Homo sapiens: one gene and its partners. The protein of the gene in region 1 interacts with the protein of each later gene in a biochemical or structural test. Each region holds a gene or a part of one and is shown in the gene's direction. Other genes may lie near its edges.

Evidence for each region.
Region 2: the proteins of NKX2-1 (region 1) and PAX8 form a complex in vitro, tested with the Homo sapiens proteins (one study listed by BioGRID).
Region 3: the proteins of NKX2-1 (region 1) and FOXA1 form a complex in vitro, tested with the Homo sapiens proteins (one study listed by BioGRID).

What each region holds. Positions count from the first base shown.
Region 1 is NC_000014.9:36,517,213-36,524,674, reverse strand, and holds the start of NKX2-1 (homeobox protein Nkx-2.1), read left to right. Parts: upstream 1-4,442; 5' UTR 4,443-4,545; coding exon 4,546-4,622; intron 4,623-4,995; exon of another isoform or gene 4,996-5,304; coding exon 5,305-5,690; intron 5,691-6,654; coding exon 6,655-7,397; 3' UTR 7,398-7,462. UniProt on the Homo sapiens protein: Transcription factor that binds and activates the promoter of thyroid specific genes such as thyroglobulin, thyroperoxidase, and thyrotropin receptor. Crucial in the maintenance of the thyroid differentiation phenotype.
Region 2 is NC_000002.12:113,275,912-113,283,779, reverse strand, and holds the start of PAX8 (paired box protein Pax-8), read left to right. Parts: upstream 1-4,858; 5' UTR 4,859-4,949; intron 4,950-5,310; 5' UTR 5,311-5,385; coding exon 5,386-5,410; intron 5,411-7,868. UniProt on the Homo sapiens protein: Transcription factor for the thyroid-specific expression of the genes exclusively expressed in the thyroid cell type, maintaining the functional differentiation of such cells.
Region 3 is NC_000014.9:37,589,042-37,592,269, reverse strand, and holds the end of FOXA1 (hepatocyte nuclear factor 3-alpha), read left to right. Parts: coding exon 1-905; 3' UTR 906-2,718; downstream 2,719-3,228. UniProt on the Homo sapiens protein: Transcription factor that is involved in embryonic development, establishment of tissue-specific gene expression and regulation of gene expression in differentiated tissues.

The sequences.
Region 1 (7,462 bases):
GCGCTCGGATGACTTGGCGCCCCACCCCCCAGCCTGCCCACAGGCCACGAATTGAGAAAAGCTTTCCCAAAAGGAAAGTCCTCTCAAAGGCCCTAGACGGTCAAATCGGGAAAGGGAGCAGTAGAGGGATCCTTCCTCCCGCTGCGTCTGTGAAAGCCGCCTGTCTGCACGCCCCGGGCTCCCGCGGTCCCTCCCGAGGATTTCGGTTCTGGTGCCTGAGAAAGCAGCGCAGAGGGGGCCCTGCGAGACCCCTCCAGAGAAATCATCCCCCGGAGGCATTCCTCGGATCTTGGGGTTGCGGAGCAGCGCCCCCCAGCGCCCAGTTACACTCCTGCCTTCCGCTCCCTGCGCCTGGTTGCCTCGATGGCACTCGCGAGCCCAGCTCAGCCCGGCTTAGAAGCCTGTGCCTAGCTGTGGGAGACTGCGGGAGCAACTGAGGGGCCCAAGTGTTTCTTGTTGAAGGTCAGAGGCCTAGAGTCACAGTTTCTCTAAATCCAAAATACAGAATCAGAAGGAATAACTCCTTCTATTAGCGACTTTTGTGATCTACAAACTCAGGCACATGATCTCATCCTGAATTGTTTGGATCCCTAGCACAAACCAAGCCAGTACACAGGGCAGGTTGTGACCATTTTTTACAGCTCAGGAAACAGGTGCTCGGAGGCTGTGTTTCCTCAGCGTTTCTCGAGGCACTGGGGGGTTCAAAGATAGATAAAACAGGGGCTCACCCTCAAGGAGGGAAGCCAGAAAACACACACTGGTTTACTCTGGCTGTGATGGGAGTGACTCCAGGGTGTGGCGGGAGCCCACAAGAGCGGTACTGCACAGCTGGAAAAAGGCAAAGCCAGGGTTCAAACCTAGGACGGACTTCCACTCAAGGACTCCTCTCACGACCTTGGAATGCTGAGAGATCAAGAAATGGTGCAAAAACCCACACACGAATCTCCATTACAACCCTCTCTATCTCACTGGATCCTAGAGTAACATCTGTCAGAAAGTAACTACATATTATTTGGGTGATTTATTGTGAATGTGTAAGTTCCGTGTGAGTAGGAGCTGCATCTAGATTAAGTTTGAATTTTCAGGCCTTGCGTAGTCCCTGGCACAGAGCCCTAGCTGAATAAATACTGTCGAGTGAATCAAAAATTGCGATAAAACTTGGAGCAAAATAACACTACCAGGAGACAGAGTGGCTCAGCGCCCTAAACAGGTGTGGAGGACCACAAAGGGAGTTAGAAAAAGCAGTTGGGGGGTGGGGCGGTGAGACAGGTGGTTCCTCCTCACAGTTCCACCTGGTCCAAGCTACAGACCCCAAATTAGCCTTCTTTTGTATGAGCCCTCTGTTCTTGTCTCGCAAAGTGACACTGGAGGGAGAGAAAGGAGTTTCCCTGCGGCCACGCTGGTGTAAGCAAAGGCTGATGGCGATTCCGCGCATCTAGGGCCGAGCCTGGGCCTGCGCCCCCTCGGATTCCTGGCGGAGCCGCAGCCAGCGAAGCAGAGCGTGGTCGGAATAGAGGCAGCGACCGTGTGAGGTCGCGCCAGGGAAAGCTCCGCGAGGGGCCAGCGTTGGGCCCTGCCCTGCCCTGACCGCTCCCCACTGTGCCCACTCCACCCGGGAGCAAGCTAGTTGCGGGATAAAGGAATACGCGCAGACTTCGCAAAGTGCAATCGGGGTTCTTCGTATTCATGGAAAAAAAAATCACTGGTTTAGCCCGGGTCTGCCCTATTTAGGATGAGTCCAGGAGGCGGCGGAAAGAAAGGACGCTCTTCGGTCAGAGGGAGGTGTTTCGGGCCATGGGAGGGACTCTGGAGGCCTTTGCTTGGATAAGCTTGGAGATACAGATGTCCTTCTCTTCCCTACAAGGTGCGTTAGTCTCCGGGCTTATTTTCGGCAGTGCAGTGGTACTGGGGAAGAAGGCAGAGCCGCGTGTTGAGAAGGGGCTAGGGTAGTAGAGGCGCTGGAGCCTGGGCGGCAGGGCGCTGCAAAGGCCCAGGCGAGGTGGATAGAGAGCTTGCTGGTGCGCGCGAGAAGCACGCCTGCAGGCAGAGGTTGAAGCGCCGTCCCAGTTGTGTCCCAGAGTGAAGCGGGAGTCTTTGCCCGCCCCAGCCACTTCGAGCTCCACTCCAGTTCAGCTCCCAGAGTCGCCACTTGCTGCGCGGTTGTTGGGGAGGGGGTTCCTGGTCCAGAACGAGACGTGGGGGGCTGGGGGTTTCCTCGAGAACTGCAGGCCTGGTTGCCCCCGGACTGTCAGAGCCGGAGGCCGGGGAGCTGCCAGCCACGTGCGCCTGTGGCCTGCTGAGAGGTTGAAAAGCTGCCAAGGGACGAAGGCCGAGAAGACAGGACCTAGGGGCTGTGGAAGATTCACCCAACTCTTCCTTTTACTCAGGTCTTGGGACCTAAGAGGGGGTGGGGATAGTCATGATAATAACTACCGCAATCTCCAGTGCTGGCACTGAGCTGAAAAACATTCAAAGCTTTCAAAGCATTTTGATGTGCTTCATCTTACTTGAATCTCACAAAAACCTTGTGAAGATTGATCTCCATTTCTAAATGGCGTTGAGACTGGAAGAGATGTACAACATTCTACACTTGGTGTTCCTTAAACTTACAAACAACTATGAAATAATGGCGAGTGAGAGAAAGAAGCTGGGTGACTGGGAAACCCACCCCGCCTTCGCAATTAGACCCCATTCGGGACTCAGGCCCGGCCAGGTCGCGCCTGCAGACAAGGTCTGTATTCAGCGTTGCCAGTTCTCCTCTGTGGTTCGCTTAAGCCCGGCGTCGCCTCCCCTCCTTGCTTAGCCACCACAGTGATCAATGCTCAGTTCGTCGGGGCCTGAGAGCGCCCCCCAGAGAAGCCCCTGGGAAGGAAGGGCAAGGAGCCGGGCTTCGCTCTGGTCTTTCGCAACACCAGCGGCGAGCGCGTCTCCCTGCGCAAACGTAGGGTGGCCTCCCCAGCTCTGCCGTGGGGACCGCACAAAAACGCGGGCGCAGGTGGGAGGGCGGAGGGTGTCCTGAGCTTTCTTTACCCTGGTAAAGAAGGTAGGCGGTGAGAAAAGCGAATGTTATTATAGAAGTTGGCTTTGTATTGAGGGAGTAAGAGCTCTCTTCAAGGAGAGGGCTGAAATCTTTAAAAATAAATAAAACTTTCTCTACTGTAATTGCTATTAATAAAAAAAGGGAGCCCGGATGAATTAAGTAGCTCAAAACTGCCTGTTCGTCATGATCAGGAGCTCCTTCTCTACAAGGAGGGGAAAGAAAATGTGAAAACAAAAACTAAATTCAAGAAGCTCCTTGACCAGCGCGGGTGTCTTGGAGGCACCTGCCGGGGCCGGCCGGGGAGCGCTCCGCCCTCCCAGCCCCTGGCGCGCAGAGGAGACTAAAACAGCTAAGGAGAAAGCAAAACAAAAACAATGATAAAAACGTTTAAAATCCAAGGACAAAAACCGGAGTCGGTCTCAAAATCCGCGCCGTTCAGTGCTCCACTCGGTAGTCGACTCGGCTGCAGGCCCCGGCCTGGCCGGAGCAACGCGGGGGACACCCCCGATTCCGCTGGGGAGCGCAGCCCACAGCTCCCCCTCGCCAGGCGCCCAAGGACCCTCAAGGCGCGGGGCCCACACTTGAAGCCTGGGAACGCGCAGACAGGAAACCCTCTTCCTCCTAAGCAGTTTCTTGCTCGTCGGATGAGAGGCGCCCAATTGAAGCAGAATGATCCTCATCTACTAATATCCAGCGTGGCCACAAAGCGACTGGCCATTTACGCCACCACTTTAAACAAAGATATTTGGTTATTCCCGGGAAGCAAGAGCACTTTTGCATGGCTGAGCTGCGGGCGGAGGCGAGCCTCGGCCCAGCCTCCCGCCCGCTGAGCTGCCCGCACCTCGGCATTCGCCCCCTCCTGGCCAGCGCTCCAGCCGCCGGGGTTCAGGCTCAGTTCCGCCCGGCAACAGACAGACGGGCACTCACGCCGCTCCCTGCTCGCGCGCTCCCTGAAGCATCAGAGGGGAAAACAGCGTGGCTCTGGGCTCGGGTGCTGGGGCTGTGATGTCCTCGGAAAGTCAGCTCCAGCCCCAGATCCCCGCGTGTCTGGGAGATGGGCGAGGGTCAGGGACACCAGGTTTGTTCGAGGTGGGGCAACTTCAGTGACGGACCCTCCCGTGAGACCCCTTCCCATCCTCCCAGCTCTGGGGGCCAGTGCTGTGTTTGCTCGGCCGGGGGTGGGGGGGGGGGGGGAAGACCTTGGGGGAGGCGTGTTAGCGGGGGTGGCCCACTGAAAAACCCCTGAGCTGCGGGGGCGGGTTGTGGCTCGGGGATCCGGGACAGCCTCCGGGAGGCAGTCGATCCCCTACTCAGCGCCCCCTCCGCCCGCTCGGATTCTCTCCGGTAGGGGGAAAGGGGGCGGGGAGCAGAGGTGTCCCTCTGACGGCGGCAGAAGAGAGGCAGACAGACTGACAGACACGTAGACCAACAGTGCGGCCCCAGGGTTCGTCCCCAGACTCGCTCGCTCATTTGTTGGCGACTGGGGCTCAGCGCAGCGAAGCCCGATGTGGTCCGGAGGCAGTGGGAAGGCGCGGGGCTGGGAGGCCGCGGCGGGAGGGAGGAGCAGCCCCGGCAGGCTCAGGTGAAACCCCCACCCTGTCCCTCAGCCCCCTCCTCCTAAAGACCTGTCCGTGCCCGGGGAACCCCGACCGAATTGGAAAGTGGTTCCACTTTGTAACTCCGCAAGTTGGTTGCAAAGCAGCATTCACCTTCCTTCCTCTCAACCATCTCTCCTCCTCTGTTACTCCCCCACCCCACCTCCTGCCCTCCCCGCTCTCGGTTCCCTCCTCCTTCCCCTCCCCTCCACCTCCTCCCCGCGCTCCGCTGGTACCCCACAAAAAATGGGGGTGGGGGTGTCCAAGGGAGGGGGGAAATGCTTTGGGTCTCGTCTCTGCCTCTCTCTCTCTCTCTTTGAGACCTAAAAATCCTGACAAGTGAAACTTAAAGGTGTTTACCTTGTCATCAGCATGTAAGCTAATTATCTCGGGCAAGATGTAGGCTTCTATTGTCTTGTTGCTTTAGCGCTTACGCCCCGCCTCTGGTGGCTGCCTAAAACCTGGCGCCGGGCTAAAACAAACGCGAGGCAGCCCCCGAGCCTCCACTCAAGCCAATTAAGGAGGACTCGGTCCACTCCGTTACGTGTACATCCAACAAGATCGGCGTTAAGGTAACACCAGAATATTTGGCAAAGGGAGAAAAAAAAAGCAGCGAGGCTTCGCCTTCCCCCTCTCCCTTTTTTTTCCTCCTCTTCCTTCCTCCTCCAGCCGCCGCCGAATCATGTCGATGAGTCCAAAGCACACGACTCCGTTCTCAGTGTCTGACATCTTGAGTCCCCTGGAGGAAAGCTACAAGAAAGTGGGCATGGAGGGCGGCGGCCTCGGGGCTCCGCTGGCGGCGTACAGGCAGGGCCAGGCGGCACCGCCAACAGCGGCCATGCAGCAGCACGCCGTGGGGCACCACGGCGCCGTCACCGCCGCCTACCACATGACGGCGGCGGGGGTGCCCCAGCTCTCGCACTCCGCCGTGGGGGGCTACTGCAACGGCAACCTGGGCAACATGAGCGAGCTGCCGCCGTACCAGGACACCATGAGGAACAGCGCCTCTGGCCCCGGATGGTACGGCGCCAACCCAGACCCGCGCTTCCCCGCCAGTAAGTGAGGCCGCCCCACTGCGGGGCCGCGGGCTGAGCTCAGGAGGTGCGGCGAGAGCCGTCCAGAAGGCGCGGCGCCGGCAGGCTGCGCGCTGGGCATCAGGGAGGGCGGCCCGGCAGCGGCGCCAGGGACTTGGGTGCGGGAGCTGGGGATGCTTCCCCCTGCTCGGCTGGGGGTCCAAGAACAGGCACTTGGTAGCGCTGGGGTCCTGCGGTCAGATGCGGGTACTCGGCGTCTCCTAGGCGCGGTGGACTGGCAGCTCTGCTCGGCGCAGAAGACCTCGGGGAGCCAAGGGAAGCGACCCCGAGCTCAAGGAGCAGGGGCGAGCAGAGCGCGGAGAGGCTAGACCGGGCCAGGAGGGAGGCTGCCCTGTTGGGAGGCACTCGAGCGCCCGGCCCGGCCCTCTCTCCAGCGGAGTCTGGGCAGGTGGGAGGACTCGCAGTTCCAGAGGGGACTCTAAGGGTCCGAGCAGGTGCCCTCACTGGGGCCTGACAGGAGAGAAGCCAAGAGGCAAAGCGTCTGGGGGCTCCAGCTTTTGGAAGTCAACACCCCCTCTCCTAACCTCTCCAAACTGGGGTCTACCGTAGGACCCCAGCTCCCGGCCTGAGCCCAGTTCGCCGCCTGTGGCCAGCTAATCCTAATGCTCTGACCCGGGCTGGGCACGAAAGGAGCAGAAGCGGCCTTTCCCCCACTGCGTCTTTTGGTTCGAAAGAGGGAACTGAGACTGAGGGAGGGCAGCCAGGGTTGGGGCTGTGAGCGCTCCAGTACAGCCCCCTCGACGGTACGGCCTGGGGCAGGCGCTGGCAGTTCCCCGCGGATGGGCCTCTTGGGCCCCAGCGCTAGGCTGCCTGGGTCAGGAGGGCGCCGTCGGTTGGGGCGGGCCGGGCGGGCCAATGGCGCGGAAAACAGGGGTGGCCTGGCTCGGCCTGGCCCCGGCCGACGCTGTGCGTTTGTCGCTTACAGTCTCCCGCTTCATGGGCCCGGCGAGCGGCATGAACATGAGCGGCATGGGCGGCCTGGGCTCGCTGGGGGACGTGAGCAAGAACATGGCCCCGCTGCCAAGCGCGCCGCGCAGGAAGCGCCGGGTGCTCTTCTCGCAGGCGCAGGTGTACGAGCTGGAGCGACGCTTCAAGCAACAGAAGTACCTGTCGGCGCCGGAGCGCGAGCACCTGGCCAGCATGATCCACCTGACGCCCACGCAGGTCAAGATCTGGTTCCAGAACCACCGCTACAAAATGAAGCGCCAGGCCAAGGACAAGGCGGCGCAGCAGCAACTGCAGCAGGACAGCGGCGGCGGCGGGGGCGGCGGGGGCACCGGGTGCCCGCAGCAGCAACAGGCTCAGCAGCAGTCGCCGCGACGCGTGGCGGTGCCGGTCCTGGTGAAAGACGGCAAACCGTGCCAGGCGGGTGCCCCCGCGCCGGGCGCCGCCAGCCTACAAGGCCACGCGCAGCAGCAGGCGCAGCACCAGGCGCAGGCCGCGCAGGCGGCGGCAGCGGCCATCTCCGTGGGCAGCGGTGGCGCCGGCCTTGGCGCACACCCGGGCCACCAGCCAGGCAGCGCAGGCCAGTCTCCGGACCTGGCGCACCACGCCGCCAGCCCCGCGGCGCTGCAGGGCCAGGTATCCAGCCTGTCCCACCTGAACTCCTCGGGCTCGGACTACGGCACCATGTCCTGCTCCACCTTGCTATACGGTCGGACCTGGTGAGAGGACGCCGGGCCGGCCCTAGCCCAGCGCTCTGCCTCACCGCTTCCCTCCTGCCCGCCACACAG
Region 2 (7,868 bases), on another chromosome or scaffold:
TTGGCTGTCTGCTAGCTGGGTGGCCTTGCTCTCTACTTACCTTCCCTAGAATCCAGTTTCCTCATCTGCAAGATGGGTTGCCAAAAGGGTCTAGCTCATTTTTTCTAACTTAAAAAAAAAAAAAAAAAAAACTATGATTACTAGAGAAAAAAATTGAGCTGTGTACGTCAATCCTTTTATCTCCCTCTGTCACCTTCCTTTTTGTGTCCCCAGGAAGTTTTTTTTCCACCCATTTGTAAGTACCAGGGTCTCCTTCCAGAAGCCCAGGCAACTGCTGCCAAAGGCTGTGGGGTGGGCAAAGAGCCCAAGGGACAAGTGCCCAGGACACATCCCTACCCAAACCAACTGGACAAATGCCACCAGTGGTTTCTTCCAAACTGCCCTCGGCAGCCCAACCAGTGGCTCTTTTCCTTTCACCTGCCAGGACCTATATTTCTATTTCTGAGTTTTCAAAGCCTAGGGAGGTGGAGAACCTGGAATAATTAATGATTGATTTTCAGGCACTGCCACCAGGAGGCCCCAGGGCAGGCTGTCGGCCATTTCCTGAGTGCAGGGACAGGGTTGAAATCCCACGTGGCTTCGGCAGGATTGGGCAAGTCTGTGAGGGGAGAGGGTGGAGCGAAAACTGCCAGTGCCCTGAACACTTCTGCCCTCTGCAAAATGATGAAGTCGCTGCTGGAAGTTCTGCTGGGGTGCTGGCCTTCTGCCATTGACTCTCCCCTCTCTCTGGGTCAACGAATGTTAATTGCTGCCCTCACAGACACCCCTGCCCCACTGCTACCCTTGCACCCACGCCTGCACCCACAGGCACGGGCTCACTGGCCCTTTCCTCTCCAAGGCTCCTTTGGGAAAGGATTAAAGGAACCGACTTCCACAGCAAAACTTTAGGGACATTTTAACTTTGCCCTCTTTGGATGTATTCCTCTGCCTTTGTTGTCTAATAATAATTAACTTTTGTACAGAGGTGTAGTTTTCAAAGGGCCTTCACATTCATAATTTTATTCGTCCTCACAACAAAGCTACGAGGTGGGTCTGACCCTCCCCAGCCCCCCGTCTATATCCACATCATGCAGAAGGGGAAACTGAGGTTCGGGCAGAAGAAATCATCCCATTCTACACAATTAGGGCTGGAACACTCACCTCTGATGCAAAGTAGAGAGCTGCTGTTTTCTTCCTGAAGGGATGTACTTTAGTCCCAACAATGGTTCGTTACGTAGGGGAAGTGGCATGGTGGCAAGTAAGCCAGGAGGATTGTTGGGAGCAGTGGTCTTCCCTCGAGGCTGGTCTCTGGGCATTGTGCCCAGAGAAACCAGGGTACATAGGAGTAAGAGGAAGAGCTCATGGACCTACTGGAGTTCAAGGGTCTCAGTCACCTGAGCCAGCAGGTAGAATGACCCAAGTGTGCAAACAATCACCCACCCAATAGTCAGTTGAAACACGGCAGCTTATAAAAGACCCCCAAACCATCCCACTCCCACACTCTAATCAGCTAGGATGACCAATTCATCCTGATTTGCCCGGGAAAGTCCCAGTTTTAACTCGCATCTAGAAAACACTGTTGGTTTTCGTCCAGGGCAAACCAGGGCACTTTATTACCCTACCACCAGCCCAGTGCATTACAGCTGAGTCCAGAAAAGAAAGAACATCTTTTGAAGGCTCAGCAGATCAGCATAGAATTAAACAAATTGTGGGATATTATGCAAATTCAAAAACCACTGTAGTTAGGCAATTACCTAGGATTGTTGGAATGTTAAACCTGAAAGAATGTTCATTTCCACAAAGAAACGCTCAGATCTGCGGCCAGATCTCTTGCATTTTCAAAGGCAAGGCAGAGTTAGTCTCTCGTCTCTACTTCTGTATTTTGATATTGGCAATGAATTACATTTTCTCAAAAAAACACTGAGTTTAAAAAAATTATAACTAGTTGCCAGTTGATAATATTGCCACAAAAGCCTTATGGGCCTCAAGCCTGAGAAGAAAAGTTGGCAAATGAGGTATTCATTTTAAAAAGTGAGTTCTAAGGCCTGGCCAGGCACAGTGGCTCATGCCTGTGATCCCAGCACTTTGGGAGGCTGAGGCAGGCGGATCACTTGAGGTCTGGAGTTCGAGACCAGCCTGGCCAATGTGGTGAAACCCCGTCTCTACCAAAATATAAAAAATTAGTCAGGCATGATGATGCATACCTGTAGCCCCAGCTAGTCGGGAGGCTGAGGCAGGAGAATCACTTGAACCCAGGAGGTGGAGGTTGTAGTGAGCCGAGATCATGCCACCGCACTCCAGCCTGGGTGACAGAGTGAGACTAAGTCTAGAAGAAAAAAAAAAGAGTTCTAAAAGTCCCATTGAAAGTCTATTAGTCACAGTGCAAATTTATTTTAAAATTTCAAATATCATCATAGGAAGGCATATGATTTTTATTCTTAACTAAAAGCATCATGGATTTTAAGTTTGAAAAAATACTGTGATAATAGGTGATTTTAAAAATATATGTATTTCAAACCTTTCGTTTTGCAGAGGAGGAGACTGATGCCAAAGAGACAGAGTTAAAGCACCAGTTAATGACATTTCCTTGGCCTTGGTCTCAGAGAATTAGGAAGTACCAAGGAACCCAGGCCTGATTTCTGATTCTAATTAGAAGCAGGGTCAGTCCAGGAGGCCTGTGTTTATCTCTGCAGCAGAAGTTCACTGCATTCTCACTTCTTGCTCGTCCTAGATCTTCTCTGCTGAGTCTTCTGGTCACCTGCTATGTCACCTGCAGTCTGGAGAAGAGGTACTGTCAAGGTGTGGGGTGTGTTTTTCCCTGAGGAGTAACCTTGAACAGTGCACATTGTTTTTACCTTGAAATGAAATTTTAAAGATAAATTTATACATGGGACAGGAATGTTCTGATAACTTGCTGGATTTGTCCTCTAAGAAATTTTGCCCAAAAAGGGGATAGGAAAGGGAGAGGGTTCATTGCTTGGGCAGAAAAGATGTGCACAGGCAAGAATGATTGCATGAGAGTCAATGGTTATTGGTACGTATCAGAACCTTAGATTGGGTAGAATCTCTAAGGTTGTCAGAGCTGTTTGAAATGAGGGCGTATTAGATTCACCCTGGAGCATTGCCTCCCTGGTGGGAGGGAATCCTGGGTGGACAAAGAGAGTTTCTGCTGTGGCTGCCACACTCCACACCTCCCCTGCAGCAGGACACAATCCAGGGCAGCAAACTGGCCCATGGGGTCCGGAGGACCTATGCCAAGATCCATTTCCATCCCAACACCCTTGGATTGTCTCTCTCTGGGAGGGACTGCCAGAGAAGTTAGGGATCTGGAGCTTTGAAAACCACAGAGATATTTAAAATTACAATTTTAGAGAAAGATTTAAAATGATGAAGCACCAACTATTTTTGTTTACAGCCCCTCTTTGCAAATGTGGAGGAAACATGTAGGGATACACATCTTCTTCTCTCTTTTTTCACAAGATGATTCATTTCTCCTAAATTGAGAAATGAGAAAGACTGGGTGGAAGGAGGTTGTGGATTGACATGAAAGAGAAAACTTTTTTAATTCAGAAAAATAGTTCATGTGTTTTCACACACGTGTACATATGTGCATACACACACACACACACACACACACACACACATCCAATCCCCCTGAATATCCCAGTTTCCCCTGCACCTTCCTTGCCCCCCTCCCACTGGCTTCTTAGCCTCCTGTCCCAGAACAACCCCACCAGGCCTGCAGAGCCATCACTGAAAAGGGCATGGCTGTCCTCTAGACTGTAATCCTGAGTCCAGAGGTCTGGCCAAAGATTGGAGGAGCATCCAGGCCTTGACCCCCAGGCCTGCCAGTGTTCCAGGACATTTGCTCACTCATACCCACTCACAATCTTACGTGTACCCCGGTTCCCCGACTGAGAGAACTATGAGGAAGGAGGGGGCAGCTTTTGCCATCACTAAGGTAAAGAGGTGCCAGGCAGCTCTGCTCGGTCCCAGGGCTCACCAACCCTGCCATCATTCCCACCAGTGGACCCCTTCTTAACCACACCCAGGCCCCCATATTGCTGAGGCTATTGATTCCTACAGACCAGGCCAGAGGTCAGCTCAGTCCTGTTCCTTTCTAAGGCCTTTCCACACAGAGATGAAGTCTAGGCCCTCAATGCCCTTCCCCTGAACTCTTCTTCCAAGTTCAAAATCCTCAAGGAGCAAGAAAGAGGGCAGGTGGCTGCGTGTGTGTTCCAGAGGAGAGAGGCGAGGAGTTGCTGTGGAATGGGTTATGTGACAATTTTGTTAGCCTGACAATGCAAGGGTGTGAACGCTATCTGTGTAGAACAGAGGGAATGGCTTCAGGTGCTGCTCAGGATTCTTCCCTGGAAGAGGTCATAGCTGTGGTGAGAAGGTAATAGCATCTTGCCTACAGCCCCGAAAGCAGGCTCTACCTAAAGAATCAGGCATAAAACAGAAGTTCCCTCCTTCCTTTTACAAAAGAAAAGGCTGCTTCCTGGTGAGCAAACCAGGGGAGACAGGGGGCAAGGAGGGCATCCTACAGAGACCATCCCTCTCACTTCTGGTGGTCAGTGACCCAGGAGGACCCAGAGAACCTCATCCTCAGGCTCCTAGGCCTCTGTTCCCCACTCCTCCAATATTTCCAGGCCTGCTGAGTTAGGGCTCAGCTGCCTCCCTCTTCCCTCCGCTGGAAACAGAAGCTCCCAGCGAATGTTTCTAACTCCTGAGTCCACTCAGCCATGTCCCCCTTGCAAAATCCTCCCCTTCCCGCACCCCCCTGCACCCAGCCAGCCAATCCGCGGCCTACGAGCCTCGCCAGACCCATCTCCCAGGGCCTCAGCGGGATAAAACCGGTCGGTGATGCCGGGTGGATGGGAACAAACTTCAGAAGGAGGAGAGACACCGGGCCCAGGGCACCCTCGCGGGCGGACCCAAGCAGTGAGGGCCTGCAGCCGGCCGGCCAGGTATGTCACCCAGGGGTTAGCTGGAAGCTGGCTAGCAGTGAGGACGGGGGATGGAAGAAAGGAGAGGGTCCCAGGATGCCTGGCAGCCTTTTCCCTCCCAAGTTAAACGGGATAAGACTGGGACAGCGGAGGGAGTGGGCACGGAGGTTGGAGTCTGGAGCTTCTTCAGCGCACTCCCAATCCTTGATCCTCCCGGGAAGCCTGTTAGCTAGGCTAGGCTGAGGTTGGCCCTACTTCGCCTAAAAATCCTCCTACTCCTGGCAGACGATGCAGGTGTAAAGGATGAGGCCTGGGGAGGGGGCCTGAGGATGCAGGCATCGAATCTCATCGCATCTCATGCCCTTCTCCTGGGTTTGTGCAGGGCAGCGGCAGGCGCGGCCCGGACCTACGGGAGGAAGCCCCGAGCCCTCGGCGGGCTGCGAGCGACTCCCCGGCGATGCCTCACAACTCCATCAGATCTGGTAAGAACGCGGTGTGGTCAGGATCCCCGAGCCCCCGCGCCGCTGAGCGTCCGTGCGTGCGCTCGGGTGGTTGGATCTCGAGAGCGTCAGCACGGGATTCGCGGGACCCACCCGCGTGGGGACCCAGCTGGGGCGCCTGGGGCCTGGCCCTCCGCTGGAGCCGCCTCGCTGTTCTCGGGCACTGGGGTTCCACCCGGCCAGCTGAGCCGCCCTTGCCCGGTTTCGAGGGACCACATGGATCGGTGAGGGGATCTCTGTGGAGTTAGAGGGGGTTTCCTTTGAGCTCCATTCCCAGCCTTGCATGGCGCATTAGTGTGGACATTCTTCGTGCTCTGTCCCTGGGCTGCACCGGTGCTGGACTTGCCGTTTCCCCGTCCCCGACCTCTAAGTCCTCTTCCTCGGGTGCGCGCAGTCCTTCCCAGTGACTCCCCTGGCTGGACTGTGAGCTCCCCGCATCTCTCAAGCCAACGGCAATGGAGCCGGTGGTCCCGGGCCCGGGAGCCGGCAGCGCACTCAGGTGCTCTCCGACTCCTCCTGGCCCAGCACCGGGCAGGCCGGGCGCCGCGCGCGGGGCGTCCGGCTGGTGAGGACTAAGCCGCTCGCGGAGTCAAAACCCCCTCCCCACCTGCGCCCGGAAGCAGGGCCTTCAAACACACTCGAGCTCCCAGGCCGCGATGCCTGTTTTCCCCCTTCCCGGCCAGGGCTGGGCAGGGTCTTTGCTGGGAAGGAGCTCCAGGGTCAGGGCTGGTGGGCGCAGCCGTCCCGGCGCGCAGCGAGTGCGGACAGCGGTGGAGGCGCAGCGCGGCCCGCAGTGATGGATGGAGCCCGGCCGGCCGCAGAGAAGGCGATTTATGGGGCCAGGGCGCATCGCTATCGATTTGGGCCGGCGAAGTGAGAGGAAATCAATATTTCAGAATGAATTCTCCGCGAATATGATGTCCCGCTCTGCAAACGGGACATTTGTTATAATAAGGAGGGTCGGATCGGGCGCGCAGCGAGGCTGAGATCTCTATTTAGCCAAGCGCACTGCGGGGGCCCGGGCTCTGCGGCGCAGTCTCCAGTCCCAGGGCCATGGCCCAACTAGGAGGGGAGCGGGAACCCCCTGGGGCGCCGGAAGATTTCTCACTCGGGTTCTCTCTAGAGCTGCAGACGAATGCTCCCTCCCGGCCCCCATTCCCCTCAGAGACCTGGGCCAGAATCGTCCGGCTGCCCCCAGAAGGCGCGGGGTCCCTTCAAGGTCCTCAGGGGAGAGACCTCGCAGCCATTCCCCGGCGCGGCGGGGTTGGGGAGCCCTGGGACCGAGCAGAGCTCCCTGGCACCTCTTTACGGTCCGCGTCCTGGAACCACGAGCGCTCCTAGGCCACTATCTAAGGTCAGGATCAGGTTTTAGTCCCTTAATCTTTAGCCAAACCGTGGTACGATACCAGACATCGCCAGGACCATCCCTGAGGCCTAATGTGCAGTGCCCGGTGCCCATGCCAAGCTGGTGCAATGGCACTTCTGCGCCAAGCTGGTGCAATGGCACTTCTGCTCGGCTCTGGAGGTCCATCTTTCCTCCTAACCTTCCCCTGACCCTTCCGGCGGTGGCAGGAGGAGTGAGTGCTCTCGGAAATCAAATTCACTGTGGCCGGGCTGGACCCTTACTCTCTGCCGCTGCCCAAGAAATGAGACGATGTCCCCGTCCCTCAGATGAGCTTTTTTTTTTTTTCGCGGCTACTTATTTTCATTCTAGAAGTACTCGTTAGAATAGATGGAAATAGAGTATGGAAAGAATAAATAAAGGCACAATTTATTTTTACTGTAGTTTTAATCAGGAACAGTCCCAGATGATGAGATGCGCGCTTTCCCACTAGCTTGGATGCAAATCGCGCTTGGGTTTTGGGAGGGAGCCCTCTGCCCCTGGACCTACCAGGTAATTTTTTTCCCCTTTCTTCTTTTCGGGAAGACAGAGGGGCTTCTTCTACCCTCTTTCCAAAACAAATAGACAAAGTGGCGAGGGAGGGAAGATGAGACTTTCTTCTCATAGTTTAATTTAAACGCTAATAAAACAAGAAAATGGCCTATAACCGCATAGACTGCTGAAGGCGCTCCCTGTTTCTTTTCTGAACCCTCCCTCGGCAAACCTGAGGGAGAGGCCGTCTGTCTTTCTGATCAGCTTACCTGACACTGTTGTCTATAACCGGAGCTAAACTCATAAGCGGACCCCTCTGGTTTTTACAAGCCCATTATCTCTCGGGTTTTAGCAGGTTCCCCCTTTTCCCCAGGCACCTCTGTTCCTGAGACCGGCCGTGCTTAGGGAGCTCCCCTTGAGTTTTCTGTGAGCAGAGCCCGGGACGCAGGCGGCCACACGGCTTTCCGCGGGAGCGAGGCCGAGCGCACCCTTCCCAATAACCGGGGACGCTCGAGAAAACCTCCCCGCGCGGCCTCCGCCGCCCAGCCTGCCACGGGGTCGCCTCGT
Region 3 (3,228 bases), 1.1 Mb from region 1:
CCTACTCGTACATCTCGCTCATCACCATGGCCATCCAGCAGGCGCCCAGCAAGATGCTCACGCTGAGCGAGATCTACCAGTGGATCATGGACCTCTTCCCCTATTACCGGCAGAACCAGCAGCGCTGGCAGAACTCCATCCGCCACTCGCTGTCCTTCAATGACTGCTTCGTCAAGGTGGCACGCTCCCCGGACAAGCCGGGCAAGGGCTCCTACTGGACGCTGCACCCGGACTCCGGCAACATGTTCGAGAACGGCTGCTACTTGCGCCGCCAGAAGCGCTTCAAGTGCGAGAAGCAGCCGGGGGCCGGCGGCGGGGGCGGGAGCGGAAGCGGGGGCAGCGGCGCCAAGGGCGGCCCTGAGAGCCGCAAGGACCCCTCTGGCGCCTCTAACCCCAGCGCCGACTCGCCCCTCCATCGGGGTGTGCACGGGAAGACCGGCCAGCTAGAGGGCGCGCCGGCCCCCGGGCCCGCCGCCAGCCCCCAGACTCTGGACCACAGTGGGGCGACGGCGACAGGGGGCGCCTCGGAGTTGAAGACTCCAGCCTCCTCAACTGCGCCCCCCATAAGCTCCGGGCCCGGGGCGCTGGCCTCTGTGCCCGCCTCTCACCCGGCACACGGCTTGGCACCCCACGAGTCCCAGCTGCACCTGAAAGGGGACCCCCACTACTCCTTCAACCACCCGTTCTCCATCAACAACCTCATGTCCTCCTCGGAGCAGCAGCATAAGCTGGACTTCAAGGCATACGAACAGGCACTGCAATACTCGCCTTACGGCTCTACGTTGCCCGCCAGCCTGCCTCTAGGCAGCGCCTCGGTGACCACCAGGAGCCCCATCGAGCCCTCAGCCCTGGAGCCGGCGTACTACCAAGGTGTGTATTCCAGACCCGTCCTAAACACTTCCTAGCTCCCGGGACTGGGGGGTTTGTCTGGCATAGCCATGCTGGTAGCAAGAGAGAAAAAATCAACAGCAAACAAAACCACACAAACCAAACCGTCAACAGCATAATAAAATCCCAACAACTATTTTTATTTCATTTTTCATGCACAACCTTTCCCCCAGTGCAAAAGACTGTTACTTTATTATTGTATTCAAAATTCATTGTGTATATTACTACAAAGACAACCCCAAACCAATTTTTTTCCTGCGAAGTTTAATGATCCACAAGTGTATATATGAAATTCTCCTCCTTCCTTGCCCCCCTCTCTTTCTTCCCTCTTTCCCCTCCAGACATTCTAGTTTGTGGAGGGTTATTTAAAAAAACAAAAAAGGAAGATGGTCAAGTTTGTAAAATATTTGTTTGTGCTTTTTCCCCCTCCTTACCTGACCCCCTACGAGTTTACAGGTCTGTGGCAATACTCTTAACCATAAGAATTGAAATGGTGAAGAAACAAGTATACACTAGAGGCTCTTAAAAGTATTGAAAGACAATACTGCTGTTATATAGCAAGACATAAACAGATTATAAACATCAGAGCCATTTGCTTCTCAGTTTACATTTCTGATACATGCAGATAGCAGATGTCTTTAAATGAAATACATGTATATTGTGTATGGACTTAATTATGCACATGCTCAGATGTGTAGACATCCTCCGTATATTTACATAACATATAGAGGTAATAGATAGGTGATATACATGATACATTCTCAAGAGTTGCTTGACCGAAAGTTACAAGGACCCCAACCCCTTTGTCCTCTCTACCCACAGATGGCCCTGGGAATCAATTCCTCAGGAATTGCCCTCAAGAACTCTGCTTCTTGCTTTGCAGAGTGCCATGGTCATGTCATTCTGAGGTCACATAACACATAAAATTAGTTTCTATGAGTGTATACCATTTAAAGAATTTTTTTTTCAGTAAAAGGGAATATTACAATGTTGGAGGAGAGATAAGTTATAGGGAGCTGGATTTCAAAACGTGGTCCAAGATTCAAAAATCCTATTGATAGTGGCCATTTTAATCATTGCCATCGTGTGCTTGTTTCATCCAGTGTTATGCACTTTCCACAGTTGGACATGGTGTTAGTATAGCCAGACGGGTTTCATTATTATTTCTCTTTGCTTTCTCAATGTTAATTTATTGCATGGTTTATTCTTTTTCTTTACAGCTGAAATTGCTTTAAATGATGGTTAAAATTACAAATTAAATTGTTAATTTTTATCAATGTGATTGTAATTAAAAATATTTTGATTTAAATAACAAAAATAATACCAGATTTTAAGCCGTGGAAAATGTTCTTGATCATTTGCAGTTAAGGACTTTAAATAAATCAAATGTTAACAAAAGAGCATTTCTGTTATTTTTTTTCACTTAACTAAATCCGAAGTGAATATTTCTGAATACGATATTTTTCAAATTCTAGAACTGAATATAAATGACAAAAATGAAAATAAAATTGTTTTGTCTGTTGTTATAATGAATGTGTAGCTAGTAAAAAGGAGTGAAAGAAATTCAAGTAAAGTGTATAAGTTGATTTAATATTCCAAGAGTTGAGATTTTTAAGATTCTTTATTCCCAGTGATGTTTACTTCATTTTTTTTTTTTTTTTTGACACCGGCTTAAGCCTTCTGTGTTTCCTTTGAGCCTTTTCACTACAAAATCAAATATTAATTTAACTACCTTTCCTCCTTCCCCAATGTATCACTTTTCTTTATCTGAGAATTCTTCCAATGAAAATAAAATATCAGCTGTGGCTGATAGAATTAAGTTGTGTCCAACGGAGACTCATGAACTCTCTTCTCATTAAAAGAGAAACGAAACTTAGCCATCAGGGTAGCTCTGGAGGAGGTGGGAGGAGGGGAGTTAATTCACTCTCGCAGGGGAAGCGTTGTACCGACAGGACATTTTAGGGTAGCCGCTATTTTGCATTTTGTGAAGATTGTTTTAAATTTTGATTCAAAAATGTCGTTCCTAAGAACTTAAAGTTGATAATTTGTTTCCTTCTAAGGAGCTTTTAAATGCAACTTCACACTCCATAGTTGCTTGGGATCACAAAATCATTAATCTCCTTTGATAGCAGGCTCACTTTCCAGTCCACCTATTTCTTTGTAAGTCTTGTTCGGATTGACATCAACAATAACAACACCAGCTCAAGCAGAGGCCTGCCTGCCTGAGCCCTTGTGTATGAACTCCATCCTCACCAGGGCTTGAACTTGGACAGCCTTTACTTTGATCGCCCCACTCCACACCGCGGACAAGATAAAAAGAGCCGTGTGAGTCGCTTAATT